3 linked regions of the Homo sapiens genome follow. The protein of the gene in region 2 interacts with the protein of the main gene of each other region in a pairwise test. Each region holds a gene or a part of one and is shown on either strand. Other genes may lie near its edges.

Region 1 (3,500 bases), on a different chromosome or scaffold from region 2:
GTAGAGATGGGGTTTCCCCATGTTGGCCAGGCTGGTCTCGAACTCCTGACCTCAGGTGTTCCACTCACCTCGGCCTCCCTAAGTGCTGGGATTACAGGTGTGAGCCACTGAGCCAGGCCAATCTTCTTAAACATATGTATATACTATTCTTTCAAATACAAAAATTAATTTTAAAAAAGAATGTTTTTACACATTTGAAAACAAGTAAGAGCATTATTGGATTGTTTGTAACACAAAGGATAAATGATTGAGGGGATGGATACTCTATTTTTCCATGATGTGATTATTACACATTGCATGCCTGTATCGAAATACCTAACCTACTATGTATCCACAAAAAAAAGAAAAGCTTAAAAAATAGTTTAAAAAAAATGAAAAAAAACAATGTTTTCTACAACATGGTAAAAGGCAAAGAAACTTACAAAGTTAGAAGACAAACATTTTACATGAACAGGCTGAACACAGATGACACTGTTTCTCTTTTGAATGTAGTAAAAATTAAAAGTAAATTAAATATTAAAATAAAATTTAAACCTTGGTAACTATAACAATATATTTTGTAATAAATATTCTTGATGTTGAAACATGAGCTTTATTCCTACATAATTGGATGTAATTAGCCAGAGCACATTCTGCAGCCTATGATTTTGCCTCTTGGAATAAACTGAGCAACGTGGTCTAATTAGGTTAATTCATAGACTTATCATCTTTGTCAGTGCATCTGCCAGGCATCAACAAAATATGAAACAACATGGAAAAGATAAACATAGAATAGAAAAAGCTGTTATAGTTAGTATACTTAGAATCAAAACTGTCTTATGCTCTGTGTGATCAAAATGAACAACAAAAAAAAATCAGACATTTCTAACAGCAATTATTTTACTTTAGATTTGATAATGTGTCTTTAACCCTTTTTTCTTGGTAATGCCAGCCTTTAAGAAAAAAAAGTTTTTTTAATTTTTTAGGGATGGGGTCTCACTCTGTGGGCCAGGCTGGAGTGCAAAGGCACACTGTTCACTGTAGCCTCAAACTCCTGGGCTCAAGCAATCCTCCCATCTCAGCCTCCTGAGTAGCTGGGACCACAGCCATGCACCACCATGACTGGCTAATTTTTTTTTAATTTTTTATTTTTTAGAGATTGGGTCTCACTTTGTTGCTCAGGCTGATCTCATACTTCTGGCCTCAAGCAATCCAAATGCCTTGTTCTCCCAAAGTGCTGTGATTATAGGTATAAGCCACCACACCCAGCCAAGAAAATACTTCTAAATAGAGATATAAACTTGAATAAAGCATCAAAGTAGTCAGATTATGGCAATTTTAAGTATTCACAAAGTAAATTGTACACCTAAATTACATGTATAAAAGATTTTATATCTTACTTCTGATTGCCTTAAAGAGGAAGAAAAGTTACCTGAAGTTGATGGACAAATCCAGCATTAGGATTAATACAAAATCTTCTTTCTTGAACATAAGCAAAAGCATCTCTGAAAACAGAAAAAGAGTGTTAATGTGATAGCATTATTTAATGAATTAATCATAATCATACAACTTAGCAATAGAGAGGGGTAATGAGTTGTAATGGAAAAAGCATGATGAGATTAAATATCACAATTCCTTTTCTCACCAGCTATATGCTTACGGCAGCTTGCTCAACTTCTCTAAGCTCTATTTTGTCCATTGGTAAAATGAAGAGTCTAATAACACCTACCTTGGGGAACTACTATGAATAGGAGGTAAGTGTAAAGTGGCCAGGTGCAGTGGCTCTTGCCTGTAACCCCAATCCTTTGAGAGGCCAACACAGGAGGACTGCTTGAAGCCAGGACTTTGAGACCAGCCTGGGCAATGTAGTAAGACCCCATCTCTACAAAAAACTTAAAAATTAGCCAGGCACAGTGATGTGGTATAGTCCCAGCTTCTTGAGAGGCTGAGGTGGGAGGATTACTTGAGTCCTCAAGTCTGAGACTACAGTGAGCTATGATTGTGCCACTACACTCCAGCCTGAGAAACAAAGGAAGACCCTGTCTCTAAAATAAATATATAAAATGTAAGCATTTTGTGCATATAGTACAAGTTCAAGCTCAAAATACTATCACTGGTTAAAGAGGTTTATTTACTTTTGTTATGAGGCTTAAAGTGCCTATAATAGTACTGAGCTCATAGCAGAGACCCAATAAATACAAGTTATTTCCAACATTAATGGTCTGACAAAATTCGAAATAATAAAAACAATATATAAAACATAAAGTCCATCAATACATGTTTAATCTTTTTTCAATTAAATATTTGTATTCTGGCTGGGTGCAGTGGCTCACCCCTGTAATACCAGCACCTTGGGAGGCCGAGGCAGGTGGATCACAAGGTCAAGAAATCGAGACCATCCTGGCCAACATGGTGAAACCCCATCTCTAATAAAAATACAAAAATTAGCCAGGCGTGGTGGTGTGCACCTGTAGTCTCAGCTACTAGGGAGGCTGAGGCAGGAGAATTGCTTGAATCTGGGAGGCGGGGGTTGCAGTGAGCTGAGATCGCACCACTGCACTCCAGCCTGCCAATAGAGCAAGACGCCGTCTCAAAAATAAATAAATAAATATTTGTATTCAAATAATATTCCTTTAAGAATAGATATTTTTAAGCAAAGTTATCCATTCTAATTTAGATATAAAAGGGGACTGAAATAGAAAGATGTGTCAATGATTACTATAAGATTTCTAATTTGTAGAACAAGAAAAGCTGAGAAAGGAAATACTGTACACTGGCCAGGCTTTTGCTTTGTCTTGGGGCAAGAAGCTCATTACCACCCCCTATCTTTTAAAAAATCTATACAGAATGCTTGGAAAAGATGATTTTTGATAAGAAAGACTACTCTGAATTGTAAATAGATGCTGCAAACAATTCCTAGGTAATTTTTCATCCAACTATTGTTAAAGGAGAACATGATAAATTAGCCCTTTAAATAAGGCAAGCACTAACATTTGTGGTCACGAGTTTTTATACTCATACCAACCAATTCCCTTGTGGTAGGTAAGTAGTTTTCCATAGGATTTCCATATTAGCCTATGCATATCTATACAAGTAGATAAATTAGGTTAAGACTAATCATGGAATAAGGGCCTGCCTAATCAAACATGACTACATGAAAAATAATCAGGGGAATAAGAACTTCAAACTTCCAAACTATTCCCATTAAGTTTCATTTTAATGAGAATTTAAACTGTGGCTAGGTTTTAGGGTATTTTCTTACCTGTACTTCATTCCAAATGTTTCCATAATGTATGCAATAACAAAGGCTGCACTGAAGAGGGGAAAATAATTTTAAAAACAACCAGAAAATACAGCCCATTAATTAAATGTTATAGAAAGAAAGATTATTTCTAACTTCATACCTTCTGGAGATCCCTGCATTTCCATGCACAAGAACTTTTCCTGAAAAACATGAATTCATTATTCTAATAGAAAAACACCTGAGTCAGTAGCTGAACTACATTGAAACCACAGTAAAG
Region 2 (3,500 bases):
TCTCCTAGGTATTAAGCCCAGCATGCATTAGCTATTTTTCCTGATGCTCTCCTTCTCCCCAACCCACAGTAGGCCCCAGTGTGTGTTGTTCCCTTCCCTGTGTCTATGTGTTCACATTGTTCAGCTCCCACTTATAAGTGAGAATGTGTGGCGTTTGGTTTTCTGTTCCTGTGTTAGTTTGCTGAGGATAATGGCTTCCAGCTCCATCCATGCAGCTGCAAAGGACATGATCAGATTCCTTTTTACGGCTGCATAGCATTCCATGGTGTATATGTACCACATTTTTTTTTATCCCACTGACCTTCTATTATGAAAAATGCCTCCACTTTTGCACAGCCAAGAACACTGCATGCCTGGCAGGTGTAGAGGCCTTCGTCCTCCTTCCTCACTCTGCGGATAGTGAGGTTCCGGTTCCCATCCTTCAATACAATGCCTAACAGAGGAAGAAAACGATCATTCTCATTTATGATGATGTAGTCTGTGAAGTTTTTCAGGGAAATTTAGAAAATATAAATGCTGCCCTTCATCTTGTTCTATTATCTAACTCTGTAGAGTCACATGGGATCTACTGCTGACTAATCTCCTATATGGCTTTCATGAAAATTCAACAGGGCCCCATACTCCAATTCTAAGTCTGTGAAATGAGCCAGGTCATGGACACCAATACTGCTTTTTTTCTACATTACATCAAGAAATAATATGGCTTTTTAGATAACATCCCTGGGAAAGTTCTGCAACCCAAGAGTGATAGCCAAATTCTATTTACCTGAGTCTTCTACAAGGGTCTCATTATCTTTAAACCACATGATCTGTGGAGGGGGATTCCCAGATGCCGTGCATGAGACTTCGATGCTTTCCCCAATACTTGTCGTCTGATTCTCCAGGTTTCCTGTGATCGTGGGTGCCACACGCTCTAGACACACAAAAAGAAAATCACAGAACATGGAATTATAACTTTTGAAATGGTTCTGGTATCAGCAAACTTTTAAACAGTTTAAATTTAGTAAAAAGGAACTTGTTGATATATTAACTTCTGGGAAAATACACTGGTCACTGGGTAAAGTTAAATGAAACAAGTCAGTCAGGACACTGCAAACAGATTAATGGCTTTTAACATTCATATTAGTGATACTAGCTGGTAATCCCATCACAAAAGAAAGGTTCAGGGTCACCTTTATGGATTTTTCCTCTAATTAGACACAGCCTCCCCAGGTGAAAACTTCCCTCCCATGAAGATTCTAGTCAATAATACCCTAGAATCCCTTCAAATTTCTCTTGGAAGTGCCAAATTTTAGTATCATTCAACCAATAATGCCTTACATTTATTTGGCAATTCTTATAAAACTTGTTTACACAATTTGTGTTCCTCACTAGTGATCTTATGTAATGAGCAGAATAGGACTGTTAGCGTTATCTCACAGATGAAATAAATGATGTTCAGCGACATTAAACCACTTGTCCATGTCCCTGCAACTAAGTAAACAGTTGAACTGTTTACAGAATCTGGTGAGGCTAAAAGACCAGTTCAGTGCTATTTCCACTAAAACACAAACAAAACAACAATACCCTAAGGGAAGTCTTGGATTTAAAGAAAATGAAGCCCATGAGTATTTGTTTAAGTGTACAAGAACACTTTAGATTTATTCTTTCTTCAGATCATCAAAGTGCTGTGGAAATATCTTGTCCCAACCAACTGAACATCAAAAGGAATCATGCTGAAAAAATCCACGTCAACACTTAGCAAAATGAGATTACCTCAACAGCGTACTACATTGAAGTCTAAGCAAATGTACTGGATTCTAGCCTATTTCTAAGAATAGGTTTTAGGAAAACAAGTTAGGAGTCCTTAGGGAAGCAAAGCAGCTAACTGCGAGCACATATTTTCTGGGCACAGCTAGGCCAGGAGCCTACTTCACATCTCTTTCTCAATTCTGCCATAACCTTGAAGCCAGACAAGCCAACAGAAAATCCATGTGATCTATGTGGTGTGACTTGAAGGATGCTGGGGATGACTTGACCCCAAAGTATCTCTTATTATGACACCTGAGTCTTAAAACTAGCGAACTTTATGCTAGTGTCTGTCAGAAGGTGCCTCTTCAAATACGCCAAGGCCTCTGATGAAGACGTTACCCTCTAAAACTGTGGTATAGATGAATTTACTTGGGCAATTTCCTTCCTAACAGTAAAAAAAAAACAGAGGGCACATATATCCTAGGAATTGGAAAGGGACACCACAAGAGGAGAAAATGGAGAGAAGTGGCACAAAGAGACGCTCCCCAAATTTGCCTGATTTTCCCACAGACAAAGCCATGGCTGCCCAGCTTTTGCACAAGGCATGAGGTTAGACAAGGGGTAGACAGTGCCTCTATGGAGGAATTTACAGAGCTATCTGCTCACTGAAGTGATCGTCCCATTGACCTTGGGCTACGCTGGATCATGTGGGATGACCCAGAGGTACAGACAGTGAATGTAGCTTCCTTCCCATGGAGTCTTCTAGGTCTTAAACGCAGCCCATCATCCCACTCTTCATGCAGCAGGTGCCTTATTGAGCAGTTAGTATATGCTGCTATGCTCTATGACTAGAGCTATAGCAGGGAGCAAAACAGAGAACAATTCCTGTTCTCATGGACACAGAGACCTCACTGTGCTGTGACTTCCCAGTGGTTGCCTATGTTCTCCTCCTTTCCTTCATGTTTACCACTGTGAATTTCTGACACTCTCCTAGCTCATAGCAGGCATTCCACAAATATTTGTCTATTTAAATAAATGGATGCCCAAGATAAGGCAGAAGTTTCCCTGGTTCAAGCTAATATCCCTTGCATATACTAGTGAATTACTCCATCATCAGGTTTTGTTATTTTCTCCTTTCGATATATCATTTCATTATTATTAGCTTCTTTCTTCCTCAAGGACTTTCGGTGAAGAAGTGTGCACCAGTTTACAACATAATCTCCTAGAGGACAGTAATCTTTGCATAGCACCTGAATTGCACTACATTTAAGGCATTCCAACTGCCTCTGCACAATGATCCAGAATTGTCTCCCTACCTAGGACTGTGAGCTGCCTGACCACGCAATGTCTTTTCTTGGTCTTCCTGTCTTGAGCAAGGCAGACATAGTCTCCTTGGTCCTGCAAGGATGCATTCTTAAGCTCCATGATCAAAATGTCATTTGTGCTATTAGAGAACATGGTGGCATTCAATTTCCAAAGAGTATCCAAGTTCTTGCAAACAGGTGTGGGCAACTCTCCCACATGGATTGGCAGAGGCTGTGGGCCAAGCTTGTACCATGTGAGGTTCTCAAACGTAGATCTGTCTGCAGTGCACCACAAAGACACGCTCTCCTGCTCAGTGGGCTGCATGTCAGGTTGCAAAGTAATTTCAGGACCCCCTAAAATGAAGAGGCCATAGTTATTGAATGGTGATTTAACTTGGTACAGCTCACTATCATCTTGCTGCTTTCAGACTACTACAAAGTACCAAAAGAAATGAAGCTCTATCC
Region 3 (3,500 bases), on a different chromosome or scaffold from region 2:
TGGCACCTCATCTGGTATTTTCTAGCTACAGCTCTCAAGTTACTCTGAAATCACAGTAACTTTGATAGGCAGGGGTTAAAGCTTTTCATTCATTACTGTCTAAGGTCAGAGAAAGGAAATAAAAGAAGATTTAGGCTACTTGCATACTGATTACATTCTGATCCACAGCATCACACACACAAACCACGGGAGGAAAAAAGAAACAAAAAAGACGGGATCTGGGTTTTAAAGCACAAGTCTATCATAGGGCGTAAGTTCCCCAGAGAACAAACAGCCTCTAGCTGAGTTGCTGTTCCCTTACCCAGAAGTTAAACTGCAGCAGAACACTCTGCAGCAACCCCAGAAGAAAGGTTTCAACCAGACACCATCACTTTAATCTTATTCAACAAGTACGTGCTAAAGTCTTTTCCCCATAAAACGTATTGTCATCTAAGTGGGTGGCTCCAGAGCCACATACCCGACTATCTCCGAGGTTGGCAATATAAAGAATGTTGTCTACAGCCAGAACACACGTGGCAGTGGACCCATCTTTCCAGGCAGGCTTCCTGGGGGGAAACACATCAGAAACACAGTCACCACCAATAGCCCAGCACTTTGAGACTAATTTCCAGAGCTCAATGGGAAGTATCTTATATTTCAAAATGAACCATTTCCTTGATACTTGCTTTTTTTCTGTTTTAGATTTAGCTAACGGTTATAAAAGCTGAGTGCTACGCACTTTTCAGACAGTGAGCAATAGTGTTAAACCACATCAGAAGACTGAAATGCATTTAGGAAAACACCACACACAGTCCACTCAAACTTCATCATCAAGTTATACTTACTGGCTGGAAGCTTGTTTAAGGAACTCTTCATCAGTATGCTTGAAAGTGTCCAAAAGGCATCTCTTCACGGTTTTCTCTACACTGATTACATCTCCTATTACAGAAGGGCCAAAAGAAAACAATCTCTCAAGGAGGGAAGATTATCCTCCTCCCACTGTCATTTTGGTTTGTTTTTTGTTTTATTTTTTTGAGACGGAGTCTCGTTCTGTCACCAGGCTGGAATGCAGTGGCGCGATCTCAGCTCACTGCAACCTCCGCCTCCCAGGTTCAAGAGATTCTTCTGCCTTAGCCTCCTGAGTAGCTGGGAATACAGGCGCGCGCAACCATGCCAGGCTAATTTTTGTGTTTTTAGTAGAGACAGGGTTTCACCACATTGGCCAGGCTGGTCTCGAACTCCTGACCTCGTGATCCACCTGCCTCGGCCTCCCAAATGCTGGGATTACAGGCGTGGGTCACCAGGGCTGGCCATTTTGTTTTTGTAATTTCTGCACATCAATTGATTTTCAAGCATGATTAAGAACAATCCCTATTTCTTTCCTTTTTTAAATTTTTTTTTCTGAGACTGGGTCTCACTCTGTCACCCAGGCTGCAGTGCAATGGTGCAACTGTGGTTCACTGCAGCCTGAACCTCCTGGGGCTCAGAAAATCCTCCCACCACAGCCTCCTGAGCAGCTGGGACCACAGGCACATACCACCATGTCCAGTTAGGTTTGTTTTTTTTTTTTATAGAGATAGAGTCTCCCTATGTTGCCAGGCTGGTCTCAAACTCCTGGGCTTGAGTGATCTTCTGGCCTTGGCCTCCCAAAGTGCTGTGTGAGCCACCGTGCCCAGCCAGAACAATCTCTGTTTCTTTCCTCACATATAACACAGTGCTATTTGAAGTTGGTTTACTAGTTTTCCAGTAAAGGCAAGACACTAACTGAACCCAAAGACGATTGACAAAAGGTGCCTATCACTTAGAATCATGAGAAGTGCCATTCTAAGTCACACCTGCATGGCCGCTACTCCTGGAAGCCTTGGCATCCACTCCTCAGCACCACTCTTTTAAGACTCATCAATGATTCTCTGCTAAAGCCAAAATAACACATCTGACTGCTTCACACAGCCAACCAAACAGCAATAACCAATTTGAGTATCAACTGATTTAGTTCTCAGTCTCACCTTTAGGAAATTTTCTGATTAAGTTTTGATGCAAATTCTGTGCAGCAAATTTTGAGGCTCGAATTCCTCCATGTCCATCAAAAACAGCAAAATATGAAACCCGAGTACTGAAAGAACGAATTGAGAGTTAATCAAATTCTCACAGCAAAAACCACACTTTTCCATTAAAGCTTTTAAATTTCGTCTCAAAGAGTGAACATTAATAAGTCAGAGGAAGTCACACTGGTTAAGACACCAGTCACACTGTTACAAATGGGAAAAAAAAGGCTTTAACTGAGACAAATATTTAAGTAACTTTCACAGCATTTTATCTTTTTTTAAAAAAAAAATACTTGTGTGTGGGCCAGGTGTGGTGGCTCATGCCTGTAATCCCAGCGCTTTGGGAGGCCGAGGCAGGCGGATCACGAGATCAGGAGATCAAGACCATCCTGGCTAACACGGTGAAACCCCATCTCTACTAACAATACAAAAAAATTAGCCGGGCGTGGTGGCAGGCACCTACAGTCCCAGCTACTCGGGAGGCTGAGGCAGGAGAATGGCGTGAACCCAGGAGGCGGAGCTTGCAGTGAACTGAGATCGCACCACTGCACTTCAGCCGGGGTGACAGAGCGAGATTCTGTCTAAAAAAAAAAAAAACAAAAACACTGTGTGTGTGTAGGTGTGGGAGTGTTTCTGGTGAAGACTGCAAGACCTGCTAAAGGTCTAATATTCTAAAAGAGATGTAACACTTTTCCCAGTATTTTACATTAAATGTTTAAAACTCACATTTGCTTCAAAGATCAAGATCTGTTAATTCTGATTTTTCACTGACAACAAAACTAAAATTCAGAACTCCGTTCCTATTTAAATCGGATTTGGTTTTAAACATTAACAAACAGATCAAGTTATTTATCGAAAACAGTAAAAAATACAGTCATGCATCACTTAACAGAAATGCATTGTTAGGTGACTTTGTTGTGTGAACATCATAGAACATATTTACAGAAACTAACACGGCGCAGCTTACTACACACCTAAGCTACATACATGGTAGAGCCTATTGCTCCTAGGCTAAACTGCACAGCATGTTACTGCACTAAATACCATAGGCAGTTGTAACACACTGGTAGTATTTGTGTATTTAAACATACCTAAACATAGAAAAGGTACAGTAAACATGGTATTATGGCTGAACACGACAGCTCACGCCTGTTAATCCCAACACTTCGGGAGGTGGCCAAGGCAGGAGGATCACTTGAGGCCAGGAGTTCAAGACCAGCCTGGGCAACATAGCGAGACCCCCATCTCTACAAAATTTGTAATCTTATGGGAGCACCGTCATATATGCAGTCCATCACTGACTTGATGTTGTTATTCAGCACATGACTGCATAAGAGCAGGGAGGATATTACAGAATTGTTACTCAAATAAATTTTAAATATCTCATTTTTAAAACCTATCTTACTACTCTTATTCCCATTCCCCTTTCAAATTTTGCCAGAAAACCCACATATATGGAATAAAAGACATCAAATA

Evidence for each region.
Region 1: the proteins of KDR (region 2) and STYX interact in a two-hybrid assay, tested with the Homo sapiens proteins (one study listed by BioGRID and IntAct).
Region 3: the proteins of KDR (region 2) and ILKAP interact in a two-hybrid assay, tested with the Homo sapiens proteins (one study listed by BioGRID and IntAct).

The regions. Positions count from the first base shown.
Region 1 is NC_000014.9:52,757,666-52,761,165, reverse strand, and holds part of STYX (serine/threonine/tyrosine-interacting protein), read right to left. Parts: intron 3,424-3,500; coding exon 3,384-3,423; intron 3,293-3,383; coding exon 3,242-3,292; intron 1,485-3,241; coding exon 1,412-1,484; intron 1-1,411. UniProt on the Homo sapiens protein: Catalytically inactive phosphatase. Acts as a nuclear anchor for MAPK1/MAPK3 (ERK1/ERK2). Modulates cell-fate decisions and cell migration by spatiotemporal regulation of MAPK1/MAPK3 (ERK1/ERK2).
Region 2 is NC_000004.12:55,101,596-55,105,095, forward strand, and holds part of KDR (vascular endothelial growth factor receptor 2 precursor), read right to left. Parts: intron 3,390-3,500; coding exon 3,048-3,389; intron 914-3,047; coding exon 767-913; intron 434-766; coding exon 302-433; intron 1-301. UniProt on the Homo sapiens protein: Tyrosine-protein kinase that acts as a cell-surface receptor for VEGFA, VEGFC and VEGFD. Plays an essential role in the regulation of angiogenesis, vascular development, vascular permeability, and embryonic hematopoiesis.
Region 3 is NC_000002.12:238,183,196-238,186,695, forward strand, and holds part of ILKAP (integrin-linked kinase-associated serine/threonine phosphatase 2C), read right to left. Parts: intron 2,093-3,500; coding exon 1,986-2,092; intron 919-1,985; coding exon 825-918; intron 546-824; coding exon 458-545; intron 1-457. UniProt on the Homo sapiens protein: Protein phosphatase that may play a role in regulation of cell cycle progression via dephosphorylation of its substrates whose appropriate phosphorylation states might be crucial for cell proliferation.